2 separate regions of the Homo sapiens genome follow, and region 2 is linked to region 1. Evidence: fine-mapped expression QTL. Tissue or cell type: whole blood. Region 1 holds a variant in brackets; the other region holds the start of a gene. All regions are shown on one strand. Distances are from middle to middle.

Region 1 (8,172 bases):
CCGGAAAAACTAATAAAGGCAATACTGTTTCGCCCCAGGGTCGACACTGCCAGCCCTCCCAAACCTCCTGAGTACCCACCCTTACCTCAGCCTCCTCTGGCCTCCCCACATAACCCTGAACTCACGACAGTCCCTTCATAGTATTACGCCAGTGCAGGGGTGCATCCCGGGATAAGATAATTTAGGTGTGCCGGGTTTTGAACTTAGGAGTGGGAGGTCAGATGTCTGTGTTCTTGACGGGCTCCTTTTGCACAACCTTATGTCCCCCAGCCTCCTCCCTGTTGCCACACACAGCTGTGGCTCTTTCACCTCCATTGCTGTTTAGAATCCCAGCATCTGCGGACCCATTCTGCTGATTTGACTGGTTTCTCCTGGACACTCTCTTCGCAGCCTTGGTCATCTATAATTTCCTGAGCCTGTGCTATGAGTACCTAGGAGGAGAAAGTTCCATCATGTCGGAGATCAGAGGAAAACCCATTGAGTGAGTATGGAGTCTTCCCAGAGCCCTAAACCACCCCGTTTCCTGGGCCTGGTGTACCTCGAGCCGTCCTGGCACCAGCTGGACACAGACCATGTCTGCCCGTGACCTTGACCTGCTGTGCCTCACCACATTTCCTGAGCAACGCCATTCTTCTGGGCGTTTTAGGAGGGCCTCTGCGGCTCAGTCTTTCTCTCTCTGTCTCTTCCTGTCTCAGTCTTAGTGCTTTCCTGTCTGTTTCTGCCTCCTGCAGTTTTTACATTCAGAGCTCTCCAAGTTGGTTTGTCACCCCAGGGCCAGTGCAGCCCTGTGTCCCTCCGCCTATGGCATGTGCGGATGCCCTGCCATGCCTCTCCCTGTGCTTGGCCTCGGGTTCAAAGTCTGCCCAGAATGTGTGCCCCAGCTCGTCTGGATGGGTGGGAGGGCGGCCTTCCCCACCCCACTGTTCCCAAGTCCTGGCTCTTCACTCACTGCCACTGCCTGCTATGCTTGTCTCTTCCAGGTCCAGCTGTATGTATGGCACCTGCTGCCTCTGGGGAAAGACTTATTCCATCGGATTTCTGAGGTTCTGCAAACAGGTGTGTGCCCCCAGCAGCTGCCTAGCTCAGGAGGAGCAGGGCGGGGTCTGGGAGGCCCTGCCGTGGGCTGCCCTGGGCCCCACCTTAGAGGTCCCCTTTCCTATGAGGCACCCCAGGCCCCCAGCACCCACCCCCCGAAGCTGTTAGGCAGATACCACATTAGCAGGGTGTGCTTGGAGGGGCAGCGACCGACATCCTGGGAGTGTCTGTTGCACTGTGGGCAAGAGCTGATCCCAGACTCTTGCTCGTGTGACCAAGTCTCAGTGTGTGTGAAAATCAGAAGAAGTGCGTGGGGATTCTAGAACCTCCATTTGAAAACTTCTCATCAGCTGCAGCTAGGGGGCAGGAGGGTTTTGGCATTAAAGACACACGCCAGAACAGGCCTCTGCCGTCTCTTCGTCTCTCCCTGCATTTCCTGGTTGGCAATCCAGCCGCTCTAGCTTCCTGGGCTGACTTCCCTGTGGTCTAGAGTAGCCTTGGCAGTCCAGCCGCTCTAGCTTCCTGGGCTGGCCTCCCTGTGGTCTAGAGTAGCCTTGGCAATCCAGCCGCTCTAGCTTCCTGGGCTGACCTCCCTGTGGTCTAGAGTAGCCTTGGCAATCCAGCCGCTCTAGCTTCCTGGGCTGGCCTCCCTGTGGTCTAGAGTAGCCTTGGCAATCCAGCCGCTCTAGCTTCCTGGGCTGACCTCCCTGTGGTCTAGAGTAGCCTTGGCAATCCAGCCGCTCTAGCTTCCTGGGCTGGCCTCCCTGTGGTCTAGAGTAGCCTTGGCAATCCAGCCGCTCTAGCTTCCTGGGCTGACCTCCCTGTGGTCTAGAGTAGCCTTGGCAATCCAGCCGCTCTAGCTTCCTGGGCTGACCTCCCTGTGGTCTAGAGTAGCCTTGGCAATCCAGCCGCTCTAGCTTCCTGGGCTGACCTCCCTGTGGTCTAGAGTAGCCTTGGCAATCCAGCCGCTCTAGCTTCCTGGGCTGGCCTCCCTGTGGTCTAGAGTAGCCTTGGCAATCCAGCCACTCTAGCTTCCTGGGCTGACCTCCCTGTGGTCTAGAGTAGCCTTGGCAATCCAGCTGCTCTAGCTTCCTGGGCTGACCTCCCTGTGGTCTAGAGTAGCCTGGGTGGGGGCAGTGTGGTGGGGTCGCTCAGTGTGTGGGCCTGGGTGTCTGACCATCTGAGCCTGATTTCCAGCTTTTCCTCTGACTCTGTGACCTTGGATAATTGGCTTACCCTCTCTGAGCTTTAGTTTCCTCCACTGTAAAATGAGTGTAATGATACTCCTCTCTAGAGATGGTTGTGAGGATCAGATGAGGTCATGGATGTAGAGCTTTCAGCCCGGCGTGGTGGAGCCCACGGCCTCCTGTTCAGGGAGGCAGAGTCTGAGGGGATCACGCCCACTCTTCATGACCTTGCGTTAGTCTCCTCTGGGGCTCCGTAGGGGCTCTGTCATGTCAGCCCCTCCAGCTTCGCCAAGAGTAGTCACGAAAGTACATGAAACCCACAGCCAAGTCACGATGGCCCTGGAGGGCGGGGCCTGCTGCTCCCTTCTGTGCAGGGCCCAGGCCACAGGGCGGGCACACCCACAAAGCCTCCACCTGAACATGCCAAGTCTCCAGTTCTGCTTCCAGACCTTCCTTCCCTAGCATGTTCCTAAATTCAGAATCTCACCACTGGACCTGCAGGGAAAGAGTTAAAACTATCCTGGGTTCAGGGTGGGGCATTGAGAGCCATTGTTTACCAGTTGGTGCAGCCACCCAGGTTCCGGCCAGCTGTGACTCACTGCCTTGTTTGATGATTATATTGTCTACAAAATTTTGATTTCATGATTGTTAGCTAGTGTGGCCTTGTTAGAAATTATTCCCCAGCCCTGTGGGCTCAGATGTTCTGTTCTTGTTCCTGGCGGTGGCAGGGAGAGATATAAGAAGAAAGAGAACAAAAGAGGCCTCTTCCTTTCTTTACCAGGGCGAGAGAGCACACCCCACAGCTTTGTCCTAGAGGCACAGAGACAGGCCTTTGACTCCTCAGGGCCAGTGCTCAATATCCAGACCTTCTGGAGAGATTCCCTACTTAAAGTAGAGATTCCCAGATCAACCACCCACTACCCTAGCCCATAGGAGAAGTTCTGGAATGGAGCCCTGGAACCTGGCACATGTCTAAAGCTCCCTGGGGGTTCTGATGTCCAGCCCAGCCTGGGAACTGCTGACTGGTCCAGGGTATGGTCAGGTGATGATTCTGGGGCCTGCTGGCCTGGGCTCTGCTGCTGCTGCTGCTGCTGCTTCAGCTTCTCTCTGCCTCAGTTTCCTCACCTGTACCATGGGGATAATGACAGCACCCACGTCAGGGGGCTGTCATGAGTACCAGGTGAGCTGACCCAGGGAAACACCAGCCTGTTGCTAGGCTCATAACTGGAACTCATGCAAACTGCCGTTCTTCCCTTTTCCCCAGAAGGTGCCAGTCCCACTTCTCTAGGCGGGATGACAGGGCCAGGGACGTTCTGTGGGGCTTTCTGAGAGTGGGACTGCACGTCTGCCCCATCACGCGGGCCTCTCCGTATGGCAGCCCCATGGTGTGGGCTGCCTGGGGCTCCCCTGCAAGACCCACTCAGATCCCCAGTTGGGGCAGAAGCTGCAGGTTTCACGGATCACGGTTCCCACTCCAGGCTCCTCGTCCTCTTTGCAGCTACACTAGTTGAGCCTTTTGGATTGGATTTAACCTCCCCCAGCTCCTCAGAAGGGGTCTTAGGGCTTAGATTTATTTGCTTTCTAGATAATGGTGATACTAGTGATGTTATGGGCACCATGGGTCCGCCCGTAGGGAATCGGGAAAACCTGGCTGAGGAACTCTTTCCGTGGCTCAGCCAGCTAGCAGGCGCCGTTAGTGCATGTACAGAGGCGGGAGACTCCCGAGAAGATGCTGCGCTTCCTGGCTGTGCCATCCCCGCAGCAGTGGCCCTGTGGTGTGGGGAGTGACTACAT[C/T]CTTTTCATCAGGGAGTCTGTGCTCAGAGGCCAAGTGTCTGCCCAAGCTGTCCCCAGAGTTCAAACTCAGATTTTGAGACTCTGGAGTCCACGTGCTCTGGGCTCCTGCAGGTCACCTCCATCCCCAGAGTGACCTCTGCTGACCAGAAACCCTGGACCCAGGCCCAGAGAGTAGGGCTAGGAACCAGATCGGGGGTGGACATGGAGGATGGGAGGAGGCCCTCACCTGCGCCGGCTTCCCGGTGGCTGGTTCCTTGAGCAGGGCCCTAGCCTTGCCCCGGGCACCAAGGTCTCCAGGACCTGGCCCTGCCCATCTCCTCAGCCACCTCTCTAGTGCGCAGCCCCTTGCACCTGTCCACCCTCTGCCTCGGGGCCTTGGTGCAAGCTGCCCCCTCTGCCTGTCGAGCCTCTCATCTCCGGCACCCACCTGATGGTCCTGGCTCGAGAAGCTTCCTTGTGTGCATCTCCTGTCTCCCGCCTCCATCGTGCCCTGCCACACCATTCCTCCCTTCCTCCCTCCCTTCCTCCACATGCTCATATCACATACGGCATTGCGCTGGCTGCATCTCCTATATGTTCTGCCCCCCGCCCCGCGCAGACAGCAGTCCCCTGGGAGCAGGACACGTAGCCACCCCCCATCTCCTCCATCTCCTCTATCCTTCCATCCCCTCCATCCCTTCGTCCCTCCATCCCCTCCGTCCCTCCATCCCTCCGTCCTCTCCGTCTCCTTCATCCTCTCTGTCCCTCCATCCGGTACAGTTCCGTCTGCCAGAGGCAGGGCTTGCTTCATGCCTTCTGTGCTCCTCCTCCACACTCAACCTCCTTTTCCCCCCAACAGGCCACCCTGCAGTTCTGTGTGGTGAAGCCACTCATGGCGGTCAGCACTGTGGTCCTCCAGGCCTTCGGCAAGTACCGGGATGGGGACTTTGAGTAAGCAGCGGGTGCTCCCCGGGGTGTGTGGGAGGAGTGTTGGCGCAGGCTGGTGCCTTGGCTCAGGGAAGGGGGCAGCCAGAGTGGCCGCACAGCCATGACCTTCCTGGGTGTCTGGTGCTCACAACCCCCCTGAAGTCTGAGCCCAGCAGTGGACACCCTTGCAGTTGGCCCCGCTGCCAGCCCCGGAGTGAGCCATTGGCAGCAGTCACGTTCATGTCCAGGCTGCAGAGTGGTACCATGAAGGGATGGGCCACAAAGGGACAGTGACCACTGCTGAGGCAGGGAGCGAGAGGGTCAGAGCCCCAAGAGGTCGGCTCAAGTCCACAGATACAAAGCCCGTGCTGTGTAAATTGTCCACACCCATTTCATTCTGGGCTTAGTGAAAGTGACCCCGTGGCTGGGCACAGTGGTTCACGCCTGTAATCCTAGCACTTTGGGAGGCCAACGCGGGTAGATCACCTGAGGTCAGGAGTTCAAGACCAGCCTGGCCAACATGGTGAAACCCCATCACTACTAAAAATACAAAAAATTAACCGGGCGTGGTGACGGGTGCCTATAATCCCAGCTACTCGGGAGGCTGAGGCAGGAGAATCGCTTGAACCCAGGAGGCAGAGGTTGCGGTGAGCCAAGATCACGCCATTGCACTCTAGCCTGGGTGACAAGAACAAAACTCCATATCTAAAAAAAAAAAAAAAAAAAGTGACCATGTGTCTAGCCCTGTGCTTTCAAGCTCTCGGCACACACTGTCTGTGAACTGTGTAACAGCCCTGCCAGGGCAGGTGGGCAAAAGGAGGTCAGGGGGATGCAGCCGACCGAGTGAAAAGGCAGCAGAGCTGAGCAGCGTCACCTATTTTGACGCCTGTTATCTGAGTGTCAGGCTATGGCCTCGGGCCCGGCCCTGGCTTCCACACTGGTGTCCAACGTTAGGAGTGTGGGCACCAGGGCTTAGACAAGTCCACGAGCCACGCAGAGGCAGTAGAGCTGGTCTGGCCTGCAGGCGCACCCCATGTACCCCCACCCCTGTCTGTCGCTTTGATCACCCATTCTGACCCCTTCAGTGGCTCGTTGAGCTCTGCTGGAGGTGTGGGGCTGAGAGCCATGGGGACTGTGTGTGGTGCAGTCGAGGAGAGCCCCTTCCCTCCAAGGGTCTGTCCCAGCCAGAAAATGCTCCCCGTCCCGCAGCGTCACCAGTGGCTACCTCTACGTGACCATCATCTACAACATCTCCGTCAGCCTGGCCCTCTACGCCCTCTTCCTCTTCTACTTCGCCACCCGGGAGCTGCTCAGCCCCTACAGCCCCGTCCTCAAGTTCTTCATGGTCAAGTCCGTCATCTTTCTTTCCTTCTGGCAAGGTGAGCCCCCTCCCAGCACCTGGAGGCTGCCCATGCCACCCTGTCCTCTGCGCTTCCTGCTGCCCCTTCTGCTTATGGTCCCTGGTGCCTGTAGGGCCTGTTCAGAGGGGCCTCAGCCCACTGGGCACTTGCTGGGGGTGAAATCTGAGCCCTCGAGGGCCTTTCCCAGGGGCTAGGGAGAGCTTTGGTGGGGCCGCTACATGGATGAGAGGGCCCAGGAGACCCTGCGTAATTGCTGGCATCTCAGTTTCGGTGGCAAAGAGCTGGGAGAGTGGGGTTTCCGGAGGCTGTGGCCTTGTGTCGCTACCCCTGCCCTGCAGGAGCAGCTGTGGCCCTGCTCACATCCTCACTGGGGCATGTGGGCAGCTGAATGGGGCATTGTGGAAGAAGGGGGAGCAGGAAAGGAATCATTCTGGGTCCAGACACCCGTGCCTCCCCATCCAGGCATGCTCCTGGCCATCCTGGAGAAGTGTGGGGCCATCCCCAAAATCCACTCGGCCCGCGTGTCGGTGGGCGAGGGCACCGTGGCTGCCGGCTACCAGGACTTCATCATCTGTGTGGAGATGTTCTTTGCAGCCCTGGCCCTGCGGCACGCCTTCACCTACAAGGTCTATGCTGACAAGAGGCTGGACGCACAAGGTATGAGCCAGGGTCCTAGGCGACCCCCGCTGGGAGAAGCAGGGAGCCCCAAACATCCCAGGACCCTCCCACCTCCCAGCATCCTACAGGTGCGGCTGGGTCAGGACATGGGATCCCCACTCTATATGCAGGAATGGGGCCACAGAGGTCGGGGAAGAGCAGGTGCCACCAGCACGACCGATTCGGTCCTGGAAGCTCAGGCCACCTGTCCCTTGCAGCAGGTCCAAGTGTGGCGGTCCAGGGCTGATACAGACAGAGACTGTAATGAATAGACAAATTCCCTCGGGCTTCTAACTCCCAACACTGTGGTTACCATTTTGTCCTGTAATTCCCTCATCTCATATGCTATTTTTTAAAAAAAGGATACTTCTGGCCGGGCACGGTGGCTCACGCCTATAATCCCAGCACTTTGGGAGGCCGAGGCGGGTGGATCACAAGGTCAGGAGATCGAGACCATCCTGGCTAACACGGTGAAACCCTGTCTCTACTAAAAATACAAAAAATTAGCCGGGCGTGGTGGCGGGTGCTTGTAGTCCGAGCTACTCGGGAGGCTGAGGCAGGAGAATGGTGTGAATCCAGGAGGCGGAGCTTGCAGTGAGCGAGATTGTGCCATTGCACTCCAGCCTGGGTGACAGAGCAAGACTCCGTCTCAAAAAAAAGAAAGAAAGAAAAAAAAGAATACTTCTGAGAAACAGACTCGGATGGTAATAGGTTTTAACAGCTTTCTTTTACACCTGCGAATCTTCCTCCTTGCTAGAACAGTGGTAAGTAGCCCCAGTTGTACTGGAAAATGCCCTGGAGAGCTTTTGGAAGTGCTGATACCCAGCCCCACCCTCGGAGATCCCGCTGTAATGGGTCCGGGCTGGCAGGCTGGGTGTGCTGTGAGAGTTCTGTGCTTTAAGCACTCCCAGGGTGATGTGAAAGTGCTGCTGCCCGGGACGCTCCACTGGGCTGGAAGGGCTGCCTCTGGCCACTGGGCAGAAGGGGGTTGTCCTTGGAGGATGGGGAAGAGGAGGCTGGGAATGCCTGAGACTGATTGAGCCAGTAAAGGGGCAGGAGGGACTGGGGAGAGGGGAGCCTCCTTCTCTGACACATCCACCCAGGAGCCTGGCTGCTGCCAGCTGTCTGCCCGAGTGGCTGGAGGCAAGAAACCCACTTCCCCAGGGCCTACCTGCAGGCCCCACACAGGCTCCGTGGTGGGTGGTGTGGACTGTAGAAATGTCTGCCTGCAG
Region 2 (8,172 bases), 26 kb after region 1:
TCCTCAACACTGCCTCCAGACCAGGCCTGAGAGATGGAACCATCAGCCATTCCCTATCCTTGATAATAGCGGAAGCTGGCTGTGATTGTAAATACCCTCAGGTGCTAGGAAGGTTTTGAACCTGCTCTTCCCCCACTCCTCCATGCCCTCCTGTCCGAGCCTCAGCCCCCTCAACCGCATCCTGGATGTCAGCTGAGGCACCCACGTTTGCCCAGGAATGTCCTAGCTCAGCAGTCAGGCAATCACAGGGGGAAAGTCACAAGAAGGGGGAACTTTCTGGTAACCTCAGGCTTTCCGCTGCCAACCCCAGGCCAGGGGCTGCCAAGGGGCCTGGGTCCTCTGCCTTTGCCAGGCTGGCTGACCCTGGGCCTGAGAAATAGTAGCTGATCCGATCCCCTGTTCAGCACCTGAGGCAACCAAGCCACTGTTTGGTAGCCGTGGCGGACTGGAACCCAGGGGTCCTCTGTCTTCTATGTCGGCCACCACCACCTCTCCCTGGCTTCTTCCCTTGGAAGCCAGCAGAGCTGACCTCCAGGGTCTGCAGGTTCATGACGTCTTCTGGAGGCATAAGGAGAGAGGTGACTCTTGAGGGACTGACAACTGCCTTGTCCAGTCAGCAGCCACAACCCTCCAACGTCCCCCTCCCTGGCCCCACCAGTCCACTCCAGAGACATCCTGTAGAAGGCCCACCCGCTGGCATGGGCTCCTTTCTGGCTGCTGAGCCATTCTGCTCGCTCTGTGAGGACAGGGAAAAAATGTGTTTTCCTAGCTCTTGGCAGTCAGCACTGCTGGAGCCTCCTCCCTGCTGGAAGGGGAGCAAGGCTGGAAGAACCAAGCACCACAGAGAAGCAACGGCCTGGGGTTCCAGCCCCAGTTCAGGTACCCTCTCACACTCGCTGTGTGGCCTCAGGTACGGCACTCCCTCTCTCTGGGCCTCAGTTTTCCCACTATGCCAAACGTCCTCCGAGCCTAAGGTACCTTCCAACAATGACTGTCTCTGAGTTTAGAGTTTCAGATTCTGGCCCAGAGCTCCAAGACCACCAGCAGAATGGAGGTAGGGAAAGGAAAGCGGTGAAGGCTTCCTGGAGGTGGGGGCATGAGACACAAACTATCAGACTATCAGACTAGCCCTCTTCTCCACCTGCACAGCCACAGACCACTTCCTCCTTCATCTGGACCATGACCACAACCGCCTGCTCACCAGCCTCTTGCCTTGCCCTCCGTCTCCAATCCCCATCATTGATCCTCCCCCAAGAGCTGTCAGAGGAATCACTACTGACACAAACCCACGAGCCTGTCCGTGCTTGGCCCATTTCAAAACCCTGCAATGCCAGCCTCCCCGCAAGCCAACACAGTAGGGTCCTCAGGCCTCAACCGTATTCCTGTCCACTCTCTCCCAGGATCGTATGCTAACAGATGAATGAACAGACAGCAAATTCTACTATCCCTGAATGTTTCCCAAAGGGACAAGCGGGCAGTGCATGCCTGTGTGTGTGAGGGAGGAAGTTGCCTGAGTCCTGAAGGATTTGCTCGCTTTTGGGAGACTGCTTCAAGATTCCCCCAGCCCCTGCCCTGGCTTCCTGTTTCTCTGGGGTTCCCAGGCCTTTTTCTCCATGTGTTGTGGAGCTCTTAGAGGGCAGGGATCCAGGGCTCATTCATTCAATCAGCAAACATCCAAGAAGCACCTACTATGTTCCAGGCTCTGTGCTGGGCCCTGGAGACCCTGAAGTGAATCACAGCTCCTGCCTTCAAGGGCTTCACAGACAACCACCACTCTATCAGACTCAGCACACTAGTCACCTCCCCAGGGAAGCCTTCCTTGATTGCCCTGGCTAAGTCAGAGCGCTGTTATGTACTTTCAAACCACAGTGACTTCTCCCTCACATCACCCATCTAAGCTGTGTTTTGCATTTACTTCTGTGGATCTTTTTTCAAGTTTGTGTCCGCTGCTGAGCTATAAGCTCCCAGAGGGCAGTCTCTGGATCTGGTCTGTTCATCTCATCCCTGGCATCTGGTCCAGGACAAGGGCCCAATGGCAATGCAGGGCCCAGGGGTGATTCAATGGGAAGTTAAACTTCTCAGTGCTAACTTTCCATCTGGGACTGAGTCAACCAGCCACTTCCCCTCATCCCCTGACCCCAGGCCCTACTTTGTAATGTTTCCTGCCCAGCTTTGAGGGTGGGCCTGTCTGGTTCCTGTGCTCCTGGCCCCAACCCTCCTGACTCAAACCCCACCTACTCTTGGGTACCCCCAGCTCCTGGCATGGGGCTGTCAGCCCTGCTTTCTCTTCCACAATTCACCTGGAAAATACGCTGTCTGCACAGACTTCCAGAGCTTCCCCCTTCTACCCACCATCCTGCCATCCTGGCTGTTACCTAGTTCCCAGTGGTAGATGGGAATACTGAGGGTCCGGGCTGCTGTAGCAGAGCTCACCCAGGGTTCAAAGATCCAAAGTCAAAAGATCATTGGTTCCTCACCCTAGCAAGTTCAATTGCTCCCCTCCCACAATTCCATAGACCGTGGGTGGGTGGGTGGAGGGGGAAGGTGGATTAAGACCAAGGAATCTCTAGCCCCCAGCCCATCCTGCAGGCGGCTACGACAAACAGGTGCTTTCTGCAGGGCTATTGGGTGAGTGGGTGGGTGGCGGCTAGGTCAGGCCCCACCCCTCACTCATTAACCCTCCGTGCAGTCAGAGTTCTATCCCCAATGCCTACTGACCCTGCCTGGCCCAGGGTGAGGGCACTCGGGGTCTGTCGGCTGGCTCAGAGCCTCAGCTAGCTTCCGGCGTCCAGCTGTAGGTCAGTCTAGTCTCACCAGTCCCACTTGTGAACTGAAACTACCAGGAGAGCGGAAACCGGCTCCGCCCCATCCTCCACGACCTAGCAGGTACAGCCTCCAGAACCCGGACTAGCTAAAAGCCTGTGGTCCTCTCCCTGCGCCGCACCCTTGCAGTCAAGGTTTTCTGGCCCTTCCTGTTCTCATGGGACTGAGGGGATGGGCAACCCTGGGGACGAACGAGAGTCCCTTGGTTCTTCCCTCCCCAGGAAGCCCCAAAATCTGGGGACAAGAACCTGGGCTCCAACTCACTTTGTTACCAGATCCACCGGGGTGCCAAGCGGGGGTGGCTCACATCCCTCACTCCTAGCTCAGCTGGGTGGGGTCTTTGATACCTTGCCCCACCCTGTGGCTGCGGGCGCGGGCTCTGGGCGGGAGACAAACACTGGGGTCACGTGGCGGAGGCCCTGGGAAACTCCGGGGAGAGCCGGGGACGGACAGCCCCGGGTAGTAGGACTGGGGCGGCCCGGGCCAGAATTCCCAGACCCCGTGCGAAGACGCACGGGTCCGCTTCCTTCGCTCGGGTCCTTGTTCCGCGTTTACTCCGGTGGCCGGCCCAGGGCACGCCCTCTCCGAGGTACACACTGCTGGTGTACAGGCCCCAGGGAGCGCGCGCGCGGACACGCACACACAAGCACAACACACGCACACACGCCCCCGAGGTACACAGCGCACGCACGCACCGGGCAGGATACCCAGGCCGCCCGCCAGGGAACACACGCCCGCCCTCGGACGTAAACAAACCGCGCACGCACCGCCCGCGGGCGCCGGGCCAGGGCCTGTTCCCACCGAGTCACGTAGGAGCACAGCGCCCCCGCCCCCGCCGGGCGGACGCGGAGATCGCCGGCCTGCGCTGCCCCTTCCTCCCGGCGCCGCCGCCTACCCGCCCGCGCCCCGGGAAGGGGCCCCGTCTCCACCCCCACTCCCCCGAGCTGGCCTCGGCCCCGTCCTCGGCGTCCCCGGGACGGCCGCTCCCTTCTCCCCGCCCCGAGCCGTCCGGGCGATGGAGCTCCGGGAGCCCCGACGGATCGGGCCCGGGCGCCCACCCCAGGCGCATCCCGGGACGCAGAAACCCTGCCGCCTTGGGGTCCCGCGCACCGTCCTCCTGGTCCCGCGTTCCTCACCCGCTTCTGGGCCCGCTTGGTCCGGCGCGCTCACACACGCGCGTCTCGCCGCTGTCCCGGCCGCTGTCCCGATCCGCGCTCCGGTCAGTCTCCCCTCCGCTCTGAGCCGCAGGTCGCTCTGAACCGGGCGCCCGGGAGCGCTGCGCTGAGTTTTGTTGTGGGGCGGGCGGCGCAGGGGGCCGAGGCCGCGCGGAGTTGTAAGGCGAGCTTCCCGGAATTACTCACTCACAGGATTCCTTTCATTCATAAAAACCCAGTCATGCGGTGACGTCACCGACCCGGCCGCCCTCCGGCCAGGAGCGGCCGCTTGGTCCCTCGGCCCCGCCCCCGTATGACCCCGCCCCCTGGAAGCCCCGCCCCCGGGGCTGCCGCGATTCTCTGCCTGGTTCCAGGGCTCGCTGGGTGCGTTCACGTGACACCTCGCGAGAGCCCCGTGGGTGTAGGTGTCATTGGCTCATTTTACAGGTAGTGGTCCTGGCCCTCTTCTTTCGACCTAGACCTTCTGCCTTAATGATCTCATCCAGTCCCGTGGCTTTAAATGACATTTATATGGCTATGAGCCCCAGGTTTGTATTTCCGGAGCGAACAGCTTCTCTGAGTTCCAGACTCATAGCCAGCTGCCCACTCTGCGCATCCAGTGGGTGTCAGATGGGCACTGCAGAGGACTCGGCCCAAAAACCCGCTCCTGATCGTCAGCCCTACCTCTGCTCCCTTGCCACCCCATCTCAGCTGCTCAAGCCAAAACCTTGGAGCCTGGCTCCATCCCTCCCTCTCCCTTCCTCCCCACCTCAGGACTCAAGCTAGCGGTGTCTCCAGGTCTCCTGCATAGGACCATTTCTCACCACCTCCAGTCATGGCACCTGGTCTCGGCACCATCAGCTTACCCGGACAATGGCAGCAGCCTCCGAGGCTCCCTACTTTGCCTCCAAAGTCTTTCTTTCTATACCAGCCAATGTTCTTCTCAAAACAAAGCTCAGGTTGTTTACACACCTTCTTTGGCCACTCTCTCCTCATCCACTGCTCTTCGGCCACAGTGCCCTTCTTTCTGTCCCCCAAACATACCAAGCTCATTCCTGCGACAGGCCCTTGGCACTGGCTGTCTGGTCTTCTGTTCACTTGCCTGACTCTTTCTCATCTTTCACGTCAGCCCGGATGTCACTGCCTCAGAGAGACATTTCCTGACCACCCTGGTTAAAGCAGTCTTCACCTCTGAATTTTTTTTTTTTTTTCGAGACAGGGTCTCACTCTGTCACCCAGGCTGGAGTGCAGTGGCACAATCTCGGCTCACTGCAACCTCCTTCTCCTGGACTCCAGCCATTCTCCCACCTTAGCCTCCCAAGTAGCTGGGACCATAAGCACACACCACCATGCTAGGTTCATTTTTTGTATTTTTTTTTTTTTTTTTTTTTTTTTTTTTTTGTAGAGACAGGGTTTTGCCATGTTGCCCAAACTGGTCTCAAACTCCTGGACTCAGGCAATCCACCCACGCTGGCCTCCCAAAGTAATGGGATTACAGGCGCAAGCCACCGCACCCAGCCTTGAAATTTGTTCTTATATTATCTTAATACTTCTGTAGGGTGTTTCATCATTTATGTATGTGAGTGCTGGTTATTGTCTGTCTTCCCCAACCAGAATGTATGTTTTATGAAGGCAGGCCTTGCTTCTTTTTCTTTTTCTTTTTTTTTTTTTGAGACAGAGTCTCACTCTGTTGCCCAGGCTGGAGTGCAGTGGCATAATCTTGGCTCACTGCAACCTCCGCCTCCCAGGTTCAAGGAATTCAGCCCCCCAGTAGCTGGACTACAGGTGAGTCACCATGCCCAGCCAGGCTGGTTTTGAACCCCTGACCTCAGGCCACCCACCTCGGCCTCCCAAAGTGTTGGGATTGCAGACATGAGCCACTGCGCCTGGCCAGGCTTATCTTGTTCACCACTGCCTGCCCAGTGCCTGGAGTAGTGCTTGGCACATAGTAGGCCCACAGTAAATACATGTTGAAGGAATACATGACTGGAGGCTCAGAGAGGTGAAGGTGACTTTCTAAATTCACTCAGCTAGGAAGTACAAGCACTGGAATTGGTATCCAGGTCTGAATGATTCCTGGCCCAGATGTTTGGGGGTACATCGCAACCAGGGGAGGAGGGCCACATAAACATGAGGGGTGTGCGCCGTGGTGGGAAGCCCCACCCAAAAGAGATGGCTTTGGAGGCCACGTGCGGGGTGGATGTTGCTGTTCATCCCCTGCTTTCCTTTGCTCATGATGTTCCCACTGCCTGAAATTCCATCGCTCCCACAGTCCCTCCTGTGAAGCCGACATCATGGCACTTACTCCACTGTGGAGGGCATAGGGCCTCTCCAAATGGGTAGGCCTCTATGTGGCACCCTGATCACCAGTAAGGATCCCCACTTTCCTTTTTTTTTTTTTTTTTTTGAGCCGGAGTCTCGCTGTGTTGCCCCAGGCTGGAGTGCAGTGGCGCGATCTCAGCTCACTGCAAGCTCCACCTCCCGGGTTCACGCCATTCTCCAGCCTCAGCCTCCCGAGTAGCTGGGACTACAGGCGCCCGCCACCGCGCCCTCCTAATTTTTTTTTTTTGTATTTTTAGTAGAGACGGGGTTTCACCGTGGTGTCGATCTCCTGACCTCGTGATCCACCCGCCTCGGCCTCCCAAAGTGCTGGGATTACACGCGTGAGCCACCGCGCCCAGCCCCCCACTTTCCTTGATGTAGCAAATTCGATTTCAGCGCCCTTGTCTTGCTTTCCTGCCTCTGTGCCTTGGTCCACCAGACACTATGGCTTCTTTCCGTTCCCTCCCACAGGCTGTGGGTTTGGTATGCAAATTGGCCCACTAGTTTCCCAAGTGACCAAATGTTGAGGCAGCTTTGTCTAGCACTCAAAAGGATCTCTAAAAACCAATTGCTCAGTCCTCTCCATGTGCATAGCAGAAAGAGCCACCTAGGTTAACCTTTGGGGTAGGAAAGTTCTCAGTTTTAGAAACTGCACAATGGTGAGTTGTCTATTTTCTCTACCCCCCACCCCCTTTAAAACCAAAACCAAAACAAAACAAAACAGGGTCTTGCCCTGTTGCCCAGGCTGGAGTGCAGTGGCATGATCATAGCTCACTGCAGCCTTGAACTTCTGGGCTCAAGCGATCCTCTCACCTCAGCCTCCCGAGTAGTTGGGACTACAAGTGTGCATCACTGTGCCTGGATAATTTTTCTATTTTTTGCAGAGATGGAGGTCTCACCATATTGCATAGGTTGATCTTGAACCCTTGGCCTCAAGCCTTCCTTCTGCCTCAGCCTCCCAATCTACTCCCTTTTTTATGAGCTTCTCAAGAGCTGGGGCCACACCTGGAACACTGTAGGTGCTCAGCTAGTGAGTGAATTCTCAGTGGACCTGAACAACACTCCTGGACACCATGCTGCCTAGATCCTTTACTCCCATCCCCAGCCTGCCAGAACAAGGGGGTCAGTGCCTCATTATCCACCCTGCAGGGACTGCTTCCCATAGACATAGCTCCCTTTCTGGTCAAGATCAAGGGCCATGGTGCAATGTCCTATTTAAAAGTGGGAGCTCAGGCTGGGCATGGTGGCTCGCACCTGTATTCTCAGCACTTTGGGAGACCGAGGCAGGAGGATCACTTGAGCCCGGAGTTTGAGACCAGCCTGGGCAATATGGCGAAATCTTGTCTCTATTAAAAAAAGAAGAGGAAGAAAAAAAAAAAAGAAATGACCATCAGGCAGCCACCATAGTAATCATGGGTTGCAGCAAGAATCACCAATGGATATGAAAGCTTGATGAGAAAGTATTTACATAGTTTCAAGTTATTTACCCACAAGATGATAATTAATTATGGAAGGAAAAATAATAACTCTGCAGTGGAGAAATTTGGCAGACACAACCTTCGCTAAGTGATCAAAGTTAATATCACCAGTAAGGGGCAAATTGCCACGGAGTTTGTAGATGAGGTAATTACTGCATGGATGCCCAACTTCCTGGCTTCAATGCTTGTCCTGTGGTCATAGAAGAGAATGTGTCCTTGATTTTAGGAAATATACACTGGAGTATTTATTTATTTATTTATTTATTTATTTTTTTGAGATGGAGTCTTGCTCTGTCACCCAGGCTGGAGTGCAATGGTGCGACCTTGGCTCACTGCAACCTCTGCCTCCTGGGTTCAAGTGATTCTCCTGCCTCAGCCTCCTGAGTAGCTGGGAT

The links. PIP is the estimated chance that this variant, and not a neighbour inherited with it, causes the effect.
Region 2: it holds the start of MAFF, and the variant in region 1 is fine-mapped to the expression of MAFF in whole blood (TOPMed, PIP 0.97).

What each region holds. Positions count from the first base shown.
Region 1 is chr22:38,223,553-38,231,724 of GRCh38, reverse strand. It overlaps TMEM184B (transmembrane protein 184B), which reads left to right. Exons shown (of 9, transcript NM_012264.5): 4 at 391-481; 5 at 981-1,056; 6 at 4,855-4,946; 7 at 6,132-6,301; 8 at 6,746-6,940. It overlaps SNORA92 (small nucleolar RNA, H/ACA box 92), which reads left to right and starts at 7,005; the gene lies at 7,005-7,246. TMEM184B-AS1 (TMEM184B antisense RNA 1) reads right to left here and starts at 405. Exons shown (of 2, transcript NR_186700.1): 1 at 310-405. It also overlaps the pseudogene RN7SL704P. RefSeq lists enhancers at 2,011-2,741, 6,566-7,066. The variant C/T (reference allele first, on the strand shown) is at 4,017.
Region 2 is chr22:38,198,000-38,206,171 of GRCh38, reverse strand. It overlaps MAFF (MAF bZIP transcription factor F), which reads right to left and starts at 4,178. Exons shown (of 3, transcript NM_012323.4): 1 at 3,960-4,178. RefSeq lists silencers at 1,322-1,371, 2,592-2,671, 3,522-3,961, 4,022-4,351, a cis regulatory region at 1,584 and enhancers at 1,512-1,656, 7,041-7,090.